Regions from separate parts of the Homo sapiens genome. Here region 1 is linked to region 2. Evidence: fine-mapped expression QTL. Tissue or cell type: amygdala. Region 2 holds a variant in brackets; the other region holds the start of a gene. All regions are shown on one strand. Distances are from middle to middle.

Region 1 (8,094 bases), 980 kb before region 2:
TTTTACTCATCAATAATAACATTGAATGGAATTGACTAAACTTTTCAGTCAAAAGACATAGAGAACCTGAATGGATTAAAAACAAACAAGACCCAATAATCTGTTGCCAACAAAATAAACACTTCACATATAAAGAAATACACAGACTGAAAACAAAAGGATGGAAAAGTATATTCCATGCCAATAGAAACCAAAAAAGAGCAGAAGTAGCTATACTTATATCAAACAAAATAAATTTCAAGACAAAAACTATAATAAGAGACAAAGGAGGTCACTATATAATGATAAAGGGGTCTGAATTGCTAAAAAGGATATAACAATTTTATATATATGCATCCAACACTGAAGCACCCATATATATAAAACAAATATTATTAGAGCTCAAGAGAGAGATAGACTCCAATATAATAATAGCTGGAGACTCTAACACCCCACTTTCAGCATCGGAAAGGTCTTCCAGACAGAAAATCAACAAAGAAACATTGGACTTAATCTGCACTATATACCAAATGGACCTAATAGATATTTACACAACATTTCATCCAACAGCTGCAGAATATCTTTTCCTCAGCACAAAGATTATCCTCAAGGATAGACCATATGTTAGGTCATAAAATAAGTCTTAAAACATTCAAACAATTGAAATAATATTAAACATTTTCTCTGACCATGATGGAATAAAGCTATAAAAACAAGAGGAATTTTGGAAACTATAAAAATACATGGAAATTAAACCATATGATCCTGAATGACCAGTGAGCCAATGAAGTAATAAAAAAGGAAGTGGAAAATTTTCTTGAAACAAATGATAGTGGAAACACAACAGACCAAAACCTGTGGGATACAGCAAAAGCAGTACTATAAGGGATATTTACAGCTATAAGTGCCCACATCAAAAAAGAAGAAAAACTGCAAATAAACAACCTAACAATACACCTTAAATAACTAGAAAAGCAAGAGCAAACCAAACACAAAATTAGTAGAAGAAAAGAAATAATAAAGATCAGAGAAGAAATAAGTGAAATTGAAATGAAGAAAACAATACAAAATAATCAATCAAACAAAAATGGTTTTCTTGAAAAGTTAAGCAAAATTTACAAAGCATTGGCCAGACTAAGAAGAGGGAAGGTCAAAATAAATAAAATCAGAGATGAAAAAGGAGACATTATAACTGATACTGAAGAAATTCAAAGGATCATTAGTGGTTACTATGACCAATTCTATGTCGTTACATTGGGAAATCTAGAAAAAATGGGCATATCCTAGACATATACAACACACCAAGATTAAACCATGAAGAAATCCAAAACCTGAACAGACCAATAACAAGTAATGACATCAAAGCTATAATAAGAAGTCTCCCAGTAAAGAAAAGCCCAGGACCCAGTGGTTTTACTGCTGAATTCTACCAAACATTTAAAGAAGAACTAACACCAATCCTACTCAAACTCTTCTGAAAAATAGAGGAGGAGGGATTACTTCCAAACTCATTCTGCAAGGCCAATATGACTTTGTTATTAAAGCCAAACAAAAACACATTAAAAGGCCAAGTGCAGTGGCTCACACCTGTAATCCCAGCATTTGGGGAGGCTGAAGTGGGTGGATCACCTGAGATCAGGAGTTCAAGACCAGGCTGGCCAACATGGCAAAATCCAGTCTCTACTAAAAATACAAAAATTAGCTGTCATGGTGGTGGGTGCCTGTAGTCCTGGCTACTCAGGAAGCTGAGGCAACAGAATTACTTGAACCTGGGAGATGGAGGTTGCAGTGAGCCAAGATTGTGCCACCACACTCCAGCCTGAGCAACAGAGCAAGACTCCCTCTCAAAAAATACTTAAAAAATAAAAAACACGTTAAAAAAGGAAAACTAGTGGCCAATATCTCTGATGACTTTTTGTTTGTTTGTTTGTTTTGTTTTCTGTTTTTTGTTTTGAAACTGGGTCTTCCTCTGTCACCCAGGCTGGAGTGCAGTGGCGTGATGATCTCAGCTCACTACAGCCTCGACCTCCCAGGCTCAAGCAATTCTCCCAGGAGCCTCCCAAATAGCTGGGACTACAGGCACATGCGACCAAAATGTGATTTCTCACCTGATCTCCCTAGTCCCCACTCTGACCGGTGTTCCATAATGGCATTCTTGTTCCTCATGGGGAAACATAGACTGATGGTTGCAAATCCCATGTCTGCCAGGGCCAACACATTAGCCATCACCATCATAGATGATTGGCCTCCACCTTCCAAGTCTTAAGTAAATGCATCTTATTGTCAGAACTTAAATCATACCTAGAACCCTATGGCAAGAAAGTTCAGTAAATGTATATTTTCTAGCCTCTGTAGTACAGGGAGTGAAGATGGTGCCTTGTACTCAGTTGGGAAAGACTGGAGTAAGAATGAACTTGAGGAAAATGTTCTCTTTTGGCCATGTTAATTTTAAATTTTAATTAAATTTTAAATTTAAATTTAAATTTTAAAATACCGAATTTAAGGATGATGTGTTGCACAACTCTAGGGGATTCAATGGAGTGCCATCTACATTTATATATATATTTATATATATATATATAGACATATATAGATATATCTTATATATATCTATATATATAGACTTATATATAGATACATAAATATATATATTTAAATTTTTGTACAGACAGAGTCTCACTATGTTGCCTAGGCTGGTCTTGAACTCCTGGCCTCAAGTAATCCTCCTGCTTTGGCCTCCCTAAGTTATATATATTTTTTCATGTTGAGATGTATATTGATTCTGAGACATATATATGTATATATGTGTGTAAGTATATGTGTGTGTGTGTGCACCTAAAACTATATGTGATGGACCTGCCTCTTAGAATCAAAGTGAAGATTGTTGGGTTCATGAGTTTAGAGCTCAGAGAAGAGGTCAGGGCCAGAGATAAAACCCAGGACATCAATATGTAAAAGTTATGTAAAGAAAGCCGTGATACTAAATGAGATCATATAGGGAAGGAAGAGTCTAATAGCACCTCAACATTTAGAATTCAGAATGAAGAGAAAGAGCCAGCAAAAGAAGCTGGTCATGAGTAGCCAATGAGGTAGGAGAAAATGAGAAGAATGTAGTGTCATGGAGACAAAACTGTTGCATTCTGTTGAGAGATCAAGAAAGATGCTGGCTGAGATCAACCATTCGGTTTTTGACACAGGACGGCAATTGTTACTGGTAAACAAGAGTGGTTTCATTATGATCGTGAAGAATTAGGATAGGCTAGAAGATGAGAAAGTGGAGTGGGTATAGCCAACACTTTCAGGAAATTTTACAGTAAAGAGGAGAGAAGAAATGATAGAGTAATTGTTGACTGGTGGCTAAAGATAGGTAGAATCTGTCACATTCAAAACGTAACCTTTCATTGATAAAACAAAGACACTTAAACAGGAATAGATATTGAATTTTATTAATAACGATTTTTAATAGACTTTATTTTTTAGAGTTGTTTTAGGCTTACAGAAAAATTGTACGGAAACTGAGATTTCCCATGAAAACCCTCCCCATGCACACATGGTTTCTCTTATGATTAATATCTTGCATTTGTGCTATTTGTTACAACTGATAAGCCAATATTGATTCATTATTATTAACTAAGGTTTATAGTTTACCATAGGGTTCATTTTTTGGGTTGTACAGTTTTATTAATTTTGACAAATGCTTAATGCCATGTATCCACTCTTCCAGTGTCACACAAAATAGTTTCACTGACCTAAAAATGCCCTGTGTTACAATTATTTGTCCCTTTTCTCCAAACCTCTACCAACTGAGGCAGAGAATAGGGTCTGGAGGCAGGGAACCTAAGGCCGATTCATGCTGACTGGACATCAGAGGCTACTTCCTTTTCAACCCCTCCTTTTTCTGGGTGGCAGATGAAAAATGACAATATCTCTAAATGGTCCCTTCCCATAACCAATCAGACTGGTCATGGGCCTACTCTTCACTCTGATTGGTCCCCTCCTACAACCAATCAGACTGGTGATGGGCCACTACTGCGTTTGCATAGAGTGAACCAATGGGAAACCTCTAGATGGTATTTAAATCCCAGAAAAATCTGTAACCGACACTCTTGAGCCACTTGCTTGAGCCCACTGCCACCCTGAGGAGTGTACTTTCTTTTAGAATAAATCTCTGCTTTTGCTGCCTTGCTTTGTTTGCGCATTTTGTCCAATTCTTTGTTCAAAATGCCAAGAACCTGAACAACTACCTTCAACCGGTAACACAACCATTGATCCTTTTACTGTCTCTATAATTTTGTCTTTGCCAGAATGTCAAATAGTTGGAATCATATAGTAAGTAGGTTTTCAGATTGGTTTCTTTCACTTAGCAATATACATATAAGTTTCCTCCATGTCTTTTTACAGTTTTATAGTTCATTTCTTTTATCACTGAATAATATTCCATTGTACACAGTATGTTTTTCCATTCACCCATTGAAGGATATCTTAGTTGCTTCCAATTTTTGACAATCAAGAATAAAACTGCTATAAGCATTCATGTGCAAATTTCTGTGTGGATAAATTTTCAACTCATCTGGGCAAATACCAAGAAGTGAAATTGCTGAATCATATGGTAAGCCTATGTTTAACTTTGTTAGAAACTGATAGACTATCTTCCAAAATAGCTCTACTATTTTGCATTTCCACCAGCAATGAATGAGGATTCCTGTTGTTACATATTTTCACCACTTTGTGTTGTCAGTGTTTTGGATTTTAGCCATTCTAATAGGTGTGTATTGGTGTCTTAATTTGCAATTACGTAATAACATATGATGTTGGGCATTTGTTCATATGCTTATTTGCAAACTGTATATTCTCTTTGGAGGTGCTTCAGTTCAGATCTTTTGCTCACTTTGTAATTGGGTTGTTTTAACACAATTGGGTTGGTTGTTTATTGTTAAGTTTTAAGGGTGTTTTGTATATTTTGGGTGTAAGTCCTTTATCAGATATGTGTTCTGCAAATATCTTCTCCCAGTCTGTGGCTTTTCTTTAAATTTTCTTAATATTATCTTCCACAGAGAAGTCTTTAATTTTAATGAAGTCTAAATTATCAACTTTTTCTTTCATGGATCATACTTTTGGTACTATATCTAAAAAGTCATCGTCAAACCCAAGGTCACCTAGATTTTCTCCCATGTTGTCTTCTGGAAGTTGTGTAGTTTTTTGTGTCATGTTTAGGTCTATGATTCATTTTGAGTTCATTTTGTGAAAGGTGTAAAATCTGTGTCTAAGTTTTGTTTTGTTTATTTTGGTTTTTGGCATGGTGATGTCCAGTTGTTCCAGCACTATTTATTGAAAAGCCTTTTCTCCATTGAATTGCCTTTGCTCCTTTGTCAAAGTCCTGTTGAACTATATTTGCATGGGTCTATTTCTGCGCTCTCCATTATGTTCCACTGATCTATTTGTCTATTACTTTGTCAATGTTTTCATCACTATGGCTCAATAGTAAGTCTTGAAGCCATAGAGTGCCAATCCTCTGACTTTATTTTTTTTTTCCATATTGTGTTGGATATTCTGGTTCTTTTTCCTTTCTATATAAACTTCAGAATCTGTTTACCAATATCCATGAAATAAATTACTGTGATTTTGATTGGGATTATGTTAAATCTATATGGGAAGAACTGACATTTTAATAACATTTTCTTGCTGTCCGTGAACATGGAATATCTTTTCATTTTTGTTTTCTTTGATTTTTTAACAGTTGTATAGTTTTCCTCATATAAGTATTATACATATTTTGTTAAGTTTATAACTATGTCATTTTTAGTGATAATATAAAAGAAGTCGTGTTTTTAATTTAAAATGTTAATTGTTCATTGCCATTAGATAGAAAAGCAATTGAGTTTTTTATATTAATCTTTTTTCCTACAAACTCACTATAATCACGTAGTGGTTCCAGGATTTTTTGTTGGTTCTTTAGAATTTTCCAAATAGATAATTATATCATCCACAAGCATAGTTATACTTATTCCTTTTCAATCCATATCCCTTTTAAATCCTTTTCTTATTTTATTGCATTAGCTAGGACTTCCAATGTGAAGTTGAATAGGAATGGTGAGGGAGACATCCTTATTTTGTTCTCAGACTTGAAGTTTCTGTCTATTCCTAGTTTTCTGAGAATGTATATAATGAATGGGTGTTGGATTTTGTCAAATGCTTTCTCTACATTTGAAAAATTCTATAATTTTTCTTCTCTAGTCTGTTGATGTGAAAAATTACATTAATTGATTTTTAAAATGTTGAATCAGTTTTGAATACCTGGAATAAATTCCAGTTAACCATGGTATATAATTCATTTCAAATTACTTTTTAACTTTTATCAAGATGATTTATATGTGATGATTTTATTATTATATTTACTAATATTGGATTTTCCTAGTATTTCTGCAATTGAACTACATGTTTTACGATGTATTCGCTTTTTAATATGTTCATAAATTAAACCTGTATTATTTCATTGAGGATGTTTCTACCTAGTGGTGGTAGTGTGGAAGCATTAGATGCTTCATACTGGAAAAGAGCAATGGCTTTCAAATCACATTATCCTGGATCTGAATCCTAACTCCACAACTTAGTGATGGTCTGTGCTTGGACTAGTTATTTAATTTCCCTAGGACCTTAATACTGTCCACATAAGACTGTAGGATTAAATAAATTAGTACAACCTCTATGGAAAACAATATGGAGATTTCTAAAAGAACTAAACATAGAACTACCATTTGATCTGGCAATACTACTACTGGGTATTTACCCAAGGGAAAATAAATCATTATATTAAAAAGATGCCTGCATAGGTATGTTTATCTCAGCACTATTCACAATTGCAAAGATATGGAATCAACCCAAGTATCCATCAGTGGATGATTGGATTTTTAAAATGTGGTGTATATATATATGTGCAATGGAATACTACTCAAGCATAAGAAGAACAAAATCATGTCTTTTGCAGCAACATGGATGGAACTGGAAGCAATTAAGTGAACTCAGAAACAGAAAATGAAACACTGCATGTTCTTAGTTATAAGTGGGAGTGAAATAATTCATATACGTGGGCATAGACACTGGAGTTATAAGCAGGAGTGAAATAATTCATACACATGGAATAATGGACACTGGAGACTGAGAAGAGTGGGAGGGGGGTGAGGGATGAGAAATTACTTGAGGAGTACAGTGTGCACTATTCAGGTAATGGCTATACTAAGAGCCCAGATTTCACCACTATGCAATATATCCATGTAACAAAACTGCACTTGTATCCCCAAAATCTATATACGTTTTAAAAAAAAATTATGTCTCATGGCATATGTAAGCACTCAATTAATTCGAGTTATTAATGTTAATATTTTAGGTGAGATTATATAAATACTTTTTTTGCACTCCTTTGCCACATTTTATCAGTTTTTAGCAGATAAGAATCTCAATGTATAAACAACAACAGAGAAAACAACATTCACATTTTAAAATTTATTTTTAATCATTTTCACTTCAACACTAAGATTCCCATCCAGCTCTATAGACAGGAAGTTATACCTCAACCATTCTTGGGATTACCCCTTCCCCAGGTGTTACAAGGTTCTGGGGTCTTACATGGCATCAAGACTTTGAGATATGCTCAGTCATAGGTCATTCTTGCTGATACGCAGTCTTGCATAATCTGCAGGCCAGTTCTGGCCCAGAAGTACAGAATTACAGAAAAATATGGTTAGAAAAATAGGCTCAGGGACCAAATCCAAATCCCCCAGGTTTAAATTCTGTCTCTGCCTAGCTGAACCTCAGTTTTCTAATCTATAAAATGGGGAGAATGATAATACTTAACCCATAGAGTTTATGTGAGAAATAAATGAATTAGAGCAGGTGTAAATGTTAGCTACTTTTTAAAATTAATTATAGCATGGGAACCTTGGACAGGGTTAGAGATTCCACTAAAGTTCTGCATCTTCTGGGTGGTACCGCTAAAGAGCAGAGAAAGAGTCATCATTCAAGGGACTCACAAATCTTTATCCCCTACCCAGTCTCTTGCTTGATGCTTCTCAAAGGGCGCTATCCCTCACTTCTACCCCTCAGGACATCCAGCAAGAT
Region 2 (8,110 bases):
CAAAACTCACAAGTAGGACATTCAAAACGGAATCTTGAAGCTCCCGAAGATGTTTTATTAAATCATTTCAAAATGAATAATATTCAATATGGTTTGTGATATTTAGAAGGCAGAGAGGACATACTAACTTTCCCTCCATGGGTGGCCTTCTATTCCCTTACATTAAAATCTAAGGCACTGACAGTTGAATTGCTTAATAAACAAACTCAACATCCAAAAGACCCTCAGCTGAGCAATATCCTCAGACTCTTCTTGTGAATTCCTGAAGTTCCCTTGACATGCTCAGTTCATTAAAAGCCTTTCACCTGGTGGGCAGAAATTGTCTCCAGGCTTATGATGAATGAAAAAGAACAGAATACTAAATTTAAGAATTTAAGAAGTCCAGCTTATATTCCCATTATTGGCAGATAACAAAATTGAGGCTCAAAAGAGGCTGGATCAACTGGATCACTTAGCTGCATAGTGCAAAAGCTGAGACCAAGTCCTAAACACATATTCTTTCTCATTTCTAGACTTCCAGTTCAATGCCTGCTCACTTTCTTCTCTAATCTCACTATCTCCATCTATTCTTTTTTTTTTTTGGAGCTGGGATTACAGGTGCCTGCCACCACGCCCGGCTAATTTTTGTTATTTTTAGTAGAGATAGGGTTTCACCATGTTGACCAGGCTGGTCTCAAACTCCTGACCTCAGGTGATCCACCTGCCTCGGCCTCCCAAAGGGCTGGGATTACAGGTGTGAGCCACTGCTCCTGGCCCACCATCTCCATCTATTCTAAAAACAGAAACAGAAAAACAACAACAAAAACAACAACAACAAAAAACTGTCTCCAAATAGATCAGTCACAAATCCAGTCCCTTCTTTCCATTTCCACTGGCATCTTCCCAGTTCAACACCACGGTCCCTTGCCTAGACAACTGTAGCAGCTTACTAACTCCTCCTTGTTTCTCTAGTCTTGCCCTACCTTTCTGCCTACATCAAGTACATCATGGGTTGTCTCTATAAAAATATTCCCTTATTTAACACCCTTTGAATGTACCTCATTGTCTTAAGGTATAAGACAATGAGCAGAAGATACAAGACCTTTCAAGGTTTAGCCAAATTTTTCTTTTCAGATTTATGCTGTATAGATTTTGCTTGTTGGCTTCTCAGCTCTCCACCCTTCTTCACTCTGATCTGTGCCTGGGAAGCTGATAAGCATGGAGCACATATGGCTTCTGGTTGGGTTTGGCAAAGGGACAACACTAGCAGGAGATGAGAAGCAGAATGACAGTGAGAATGGGCATTTATTTGCTGGATTCCTCACTGCAGTCTCCTTAGGAGAATCTCTGCAGTTGGATAATTGCTACAAGGACACCCCGTCTAGGAGGGGTAACAATCCCATACTTAATAGTCCTGGAGTACCTCTCAAGTGTTAATACATCTGGCCCACTTTTTGGTAAATAACTCCTATGTTAAATTCTCCACAAATAATTCACTTCGAGTTCTATTAGTGGTTCCTTGCCAGTCTGATATTTGGCCAATCCCAAGTTGATGCCTTAATTTACAATTACAATTTGCAACTTACAATTATATTGAATAATGATAGTCTCTGAAACAAATGCACCCTGTTCATTCTTCTCTGAAGCTTTGTTCCTGTTGTTTATTTCTGTCTGAATTGCATTTGTATGCATGTATTTCTGTCTGAATTGGATTCCTACTTCCCATTACCCCCAACATCATATCTCAGGTCCTAGACTAACTGCTCCTAGACTCCTTCTGATTGAATGCAAATGGCTACATAGACATCTCTAATCCCCCTGTGCTTCCCCCTATTGGATCACCCTTGACAACGTGCTGTTGTGTGTTCCCTAATACATGGGAAACATGGAGGCCGGGAGCTGTATCATTCATCCTCATAAACTCACTACCTAGCACAGATCCCACAACAGCATAGCAACTCAACAAATCTTACTTAAATAAAATGTATCTTTATTTGGATGTGGAGGTCTTTCCCTTCCAGTTCTTACTTGGCTTGAAATTTTCCCTTGAATCTCCCAGGGAGTTATTGTAATTACCAGATGCTGGGCAAGTACCAACAAACCGTGAGAAGAACACTGTTCTAATCCTTGAGAAGCTCAAAGTCCATGATCTAACTCCCAGGCTATTTAAGAGCTCAAAGCAGATGATATGTAAGTAAAAATGCATTTTAAATAAGATATTGAAGCCAAATATGATTTGGTTTCAAAAGAGAAATTAATATTTTGAAGAAGGCATCACAAATCCAGATCCATTTATCTGAAGTACAAGACTGCCCTGCCAAATTAAATGTCTGATTCTTTATTCCCGCCAGTTTCTAAAATCTGTCAGCGATTGCTGACTCAAAAACAAAAGCATAAACAACACAGTTTAAAGATGTTCTTAACAAGTATCTGGTCCTTTCTGATGCTATGTGACAGAGCAGGGAAGACCATGCTGCAGGTGGACCATTCTATTCAAGTTACAATGGCTTTCCAATTAAGTTAGGGCAAAATTGTCACCACATTCTAGCATCACCTCACATTTTGTTCTAAAGATTTTGTCGACTATACCTCACATTTTGTATATAGATTTTGTCAACACATGTTTGTGCCATGAGTTTGGGAATTGTAGTAATTTTCATGATAAGGACAATGGCAAACCTAAGTGTTGAGATTAAGTATTAATTTTTTTTTTTTTTTTGAGACGGAGTCTTGCTCTGTCACCCAGGCTGGACTGCAGTGGCATGATCTCGGCTCACTGCAAGCTCCGCCTCCTGGGTTCATGCCATTCTCCTGCCTCAGCCTACTCAACAGCTGGGACTACAGGCGCATGCCGCCACGCCTGGCTAATTTTTTTGTATTTTTAGTAGAGACGGGGTTTCACCATGTTAACCAGGATGGTCTCGATCTTCTGACCTCGTGATCTGCCTGCCTCGGCCCTCCAAAGTGCTGGGATTACAGGCGTGAGCCAATGTGCCTGGCCAAGTATTAAATTGTTATATGACAGCTTCTTAGAAGCTTTGAACATCTGAGTCAGAGTCTGTGATATAGTTTCAAGCAAGTAGTTGTTTGTTTTGTTTTGTTATTTTCTGTTCCCATCTGCCAGGTTGGCTTTTTGAGCAGCAACCTCCCTGTCCACCCTTGAAGGCAAAGTTCCCTATAAAGGGCTGCCATACTACCCTTTTGCTAGCTTGGGACATCAGTTCTCCCCTATGGTGCATTACATACTGTTACATCACGTTTTAGCAATTATGTACAAAGAACTGAAATTAAGAATTTTTTTAACTTTTATTTTAGGTTTAGGCGTATATGTGCAGGCTTGTTATATAGGTAAACTGTGTGTTGTGGGGGTTTGGTGTCCAGATTATTTAGTCACCCAGGTAATAAGGATAATACTCAATAGATTTTTTTTAAATCCTCTCCCTCCTCCCACCCTCCACCATCAAGTAGACTCCAGTGTCTCATTCTTTTCTTTATGTCCATGCATTCTCACAAAACAGATTTTTAATAAATTAGTGTGAATCAAGATTGTTTCTATTATAGCTTCCTTCTTACTTTTGCTTGCATTGCAAATTGCTCTCTTCATTAGGAATGAAAGGAGTGAACTTATCATAAATGCATAGAAAAACCCACAGCCAATCTCACTTATGCCACATGTGACTGTTCACCATGTGAGTTGCAAGGAAAATGTGAATGATCACCATATTTCATCAATTGTAAAAGGCAACTTTTTCCACATTTTTATATACCTGAAATAAGGCTGCATCTTACAGTTGATCATACCTTATAGTTAAAATAGGCAGGTTTTTAAAATGGAATATAACATATAATGCTGTATCCCACATTAGCTGCATTTTAGACTCAAAGTTAATTACCCCAGGACCCATATCCCACTCTTTATTTTGAAATTTCTCTCTAGTCAGGCACAATGGTTCCTACAATATTGTCTGTCCTTCTTCTCTCACTGGTCCTGTCATATTATTAACTCATTTTAAAAATATTGATTGTCTATTTTGCCGGATCTCATATTCTTATAAAGTGGTTCCATTTATAGAACAGTCATTGCACCTAATTTAGACCAGTTCAAGATATTTCAGAACTTATCTTTCAGGTAAGCCCATGTTGGCCATTTGTTTGAACAAGAGCCTCTGAAAACTGTTTGGTGGATTCTAACTACAGATGGGTTATTTAGGAAAGAGAAGCCATTTCTTAATGAATGGGAGTATGCCTCATACCAGCTTATGTAAAATCACAGCAGTACTATCGCATGGCTGGAATCACATAAGCATTGGCTACCAGATCCCCTGAGACAGGTGCAGAGCTGAGAAAATCACGGTGGGAGTGATTGTGGAGGGAGTAATGATTGTGAGACAGCAGGAGGGAGAAGCTTCCTACCCTACCACTCCCAGCTTTTGGAACTTCAAAGTGCTGATGTATCATAGACATTCAATATATGGTTGTTTAATGAATGAATATATTTAGCCAAAAAATCAGATTAAAGCAATTTGAATGAGTGGTGCTGAAAAGAAATGGAAATCACAAAGGCCAGTTGCCCCAAAGGGGTGTGCAGGGAAGGGAGAAGGCAAATGTCACTGACCTTGCTGTGGTGGTGAGGTTGGATGGGAGTTACTCTATCTTTCTGCCTGTCAACACTTGGGATTTATTATCATTGAGTCACTATTGTAAGAGCTTTATAAACATTAACCTACTTAATCTTCAAAATTATCTTATAACATAGCTACTATTATCTCAATTTTATTAATAAAGAGACTGATACACCAAGAGGTGAAGTGCCTTTCCCAGGGTCTCACAGCTAGTAAGTGACAGATTTAGGGTTTGAACACAGGACTCTGGTTCCAGAGTCTGTGCTT[T/C]GATCACTTCATTTCAGTGCATCTTTCTTCACTCAGGAGGTGTTCTCTATTTTAGTCATTACAATACTATGGCCTTTGAAGCCAGATGTCTGTGGTCTGTCCCAGACTTGAGGAGAGACAAACTCGGCTCTCAGGCTGCAGAATGATAGGCTGATAGGCCTGCCCTGTAGGTGTGGTCAGGCAGAGATGGCCGGCACACTCTCTAGATTTGACTTGGATATGATCCATGTTTTTAGAAATACAATTAAAAACTTTACTTAAAATTACATGTTCTGTTATAGTATTAAAATGACATCTCCCCTGTACCCTCAAATCCCAGGTTAGAAAAAAGTAATGTTTGACTTTCTTTGTTCTTTTTTGTCCTGGCATTGTAAAATATAGCCTAAAGAAAGTCCTGGGGAACTGCTCATAGCTATATGTCAAATGAATTATTTTATCAGTGTGTTAAAACAATTTTTTTAAGCCCACATTTTCTCTAAAACTCTTGATGGAAAATTAACATCTTGATGGGATACAGAATTAAAAACAAATACTTTAAGAAATTACTGCTAGAGGAATTAATCAAAATACTGAGAGGCAGCAGATTTGTTCTGAAAATAATCCTGATATCTGAGTTTCTGTCTTGAAAAGGAGAAATATTTACCTTTTAAAATTCCATACTATAAATACATTCTAAATCAAAATTCTGGCTCTTGATTGTTGTTTAATATCCAGAAAGGAAAATGGCTTTTGATTTGGGGTTGGCGTTTAACAGAAATCACAAAAGTGTCCATTTGTACACCATAGGCTGGATTTGGGCCTATGATACTAACAACATACCTTCAGTTTTAACAGAGGTTAGATATTTAATGCAGCATTAGAATCCAAGATGTAGACAGATGTCTCAGACAGACAAACATGGTAGCCAAGTAGACCTTGCTTTTTCAGCCTATGAGAGTGAGAGCTGTGTCTTTGTTCCTAGTGCCTAGCAAAGGGCTGGAACATAGGAGGCACAATATATGTACAATTGAGTTTCTCCAACTGAACAGAGATAGAAAACTGTTGCCTTTGTGCACCAATGGAAAGTTAAGGTATTAGAATTGCTACCCAAATATACTCAATAGTGATAGTGTATGTTTGTCTGGAATGTAGATGTAGATAATAAATAAAAAGTAGATTCACATGAAATTTTGAGAGCACACTTGACAGCATACAATGTCCATTTTATTTATTTCCTTGACACTGTGTTTTGCTCAGTTACTTGGATGTTGACAAATGCTATTATCATATTTTCTTCTTAGAAGCAATATGAATATTAAAACTAATCTTGGGAGATTCCACTGAATGCTTTTTTTTTTTTTTTTGAGATGGAGTCTCACTCTGTCACCCAGGCTGGAGTGCAGTGACGTGATCTCGGCTCACTGCAACCTCTGCCTCCCGAGTTCAAGCAATTCTCCTGCCTCAGCTTCCCAAGTAGCTGGGACTACAGGCACGTGCCACCACACCTGGCTAATTTTTTGTATTTTTAGTACAGATGGGGTTTCACCATGTTAGCCAGGATGGTCTCGATCTCCTGACCTCATGATCCACCCATCTCAGCCTCCCAAAGTGCTGGGATTACAGGTGTGAGCCACCATGCCTGGCCTGCCTTTTTTTTTTTTTTTTTATAATGAGTTATGAGTTAAGCCTATTTATCTTTGGTATTCTTCTTTGTGTTCCATGGCAATGCAGATTCCACTGTGTTCCTCCTTCTTATAAATTTGAAAAATGAGGAAAAATGAGATTGTGTGCCTTTAATTATATTATCAGCAATTGAGGGAAAATACAGGTACCATGTATTTTGCCAAGGTTATCTTTTCTAACAAACTGCCTGTTAATTTGTGGGAATGCTTCTGAGTCATTATTAGCAATGCTTTTGTTTGCTATTGTCTCTTAGAATCTTAATTTCTTACATATATTTTCTTTCATTTTTCTAACTTGATTCTCTCATCATCTTTTATGGTTTCTTAACATTCTTATTTACCAGTAGTAAATACAATTATTATCATTTTTTCTTAGTAGCTCACAGCAACATACATTTATCTGAGAGTCTAGAGTTTAGAAGACAAAAATAGGTTTCACTGGAATAAATTATCTGTCCACAGCACTGCATTCCTCCTAGAGGTCCAGGGAAGAAACTGTCTTCAAAGCCAGCGATGCCCTGTATAGTCTTTCTCGGGCTGTCAATCTGGTCTCTGCTTCTGTCATAACATCTTCTTCTCTGACTCTCCTGCCTCTCTTTTTCTATCAAAAGGCCCTTGTGATTAGATTAGGCACATCCAGATAATCTAGGATTGACTTCTCATCTCAAGATCCTTAATTTCGTCACATCTGAAAAGTCCTATTTGCCTTATAAGGTGACGTAATCATAGGTTTTAGGTATTGGGATATGGACATTTTGGGATTAATTATTCTGTAGTGTTCTTTTTTTAGGATAAAATTTTATTTTATATTTTCCCCTCTACTTTTAAGTTCTGGGGTACATGTGCAAAATGTGAGGATTTGTTACATAGGTAAATGTGTGTCATGGTAGTAATAATTATTTGATTAGAGAATTATCCCATCACCTGGGATTACAGTTATAATTCAATTAGGTCCTTGTTCTCATGGAGCTTATTTTCAACTGGGAGAAGGAAGACCATGGCAAATAAATATGGTAATTATATGTGGTGACAAATGCTGTGAAGAAACTAAAACAGGCTATCATTTTACAATAAAAAGGTAGCAGGCTCTGATGGTCAAGAGCAGGGAGGCTACAGCCAGACCAGAATTTTAATCTCAGCACTAATACTTTGCTGTGTGATCTTGGGCAAGTTATTGAGCCTTTCTGTGCCTTTGTTTCTTCATCTCTGAAAAGGAAACAATCATAGCCCCTATCTCACAGGCTTGTTTTAGGGATTACATTAATTAATACATGGAATACATAGAACCCTATCTGATATACAGTAGGCACTTTGCAAGATTAACTTTTTTTTTCATTATTTTAGTAATTAATACCTCCCGGATACTTTCTATCAGCCGGAAATTATTATTATAACTTGTCCATCAAAATTACCCTATGAAGTAGGTGTTAGTCCCTTTTCACAGATGAGAAATCTGAAGGTTGGAGAGGCTAAATAACTATCACAAGGTCATGCAGCTAGCCAAGTAGCAGAAGCACTGCATTTGACTTCTGCTCTGTCCTCAAACATCTTTGCCTCTCTTCATAAGACGTAAGTTTGATT

Which allele goes with the higher level. Alleles are on the strand shown, and positions count from the first base shown. SD is a standard deviation of normalised expression in the study named.
In carriers of allele C in region 2, the expression in amygdala of the gene that starts at base 3,100 in region 1 tends to be higher than with T alone (large effect, 0.87 SD a copy in GTEx).

Evidence for each region. PIP is the estimated chance that this variant, and not a neighbour inherited with it, causes the effect.
Region 1: it holds the start of LINC02734, and the variant in region 2 is fine-mapped to the expression of LINC02734 in amygdala (GTEx, PIP above 0.99).

What each region holds. Positions count from the first base shown.
Region 1 is chr11:82,778,403-82,786,496 of GRCh38, forward strand. LINC02734 (long intergenic non-protein coding RNA 2734) reads left to right here and starts at 3,100. Exons shown (of 3, transcript NR_183631.1): 1 at 3,100-3,193.
Region 2 is chr11:83,759,901-83,768,010 of GRCh38, forward strand. The region is part of intron 18 of DLG2 (discs large MAGUK scaffold protein 2); the gene reads right to left. Among named protein-coding and RNA genes, the nearest start is that of DLG2-AS2, 130 kb to the left of the region's middle. The variant T/C (reference allele first, on the strand shown) is at 4,869.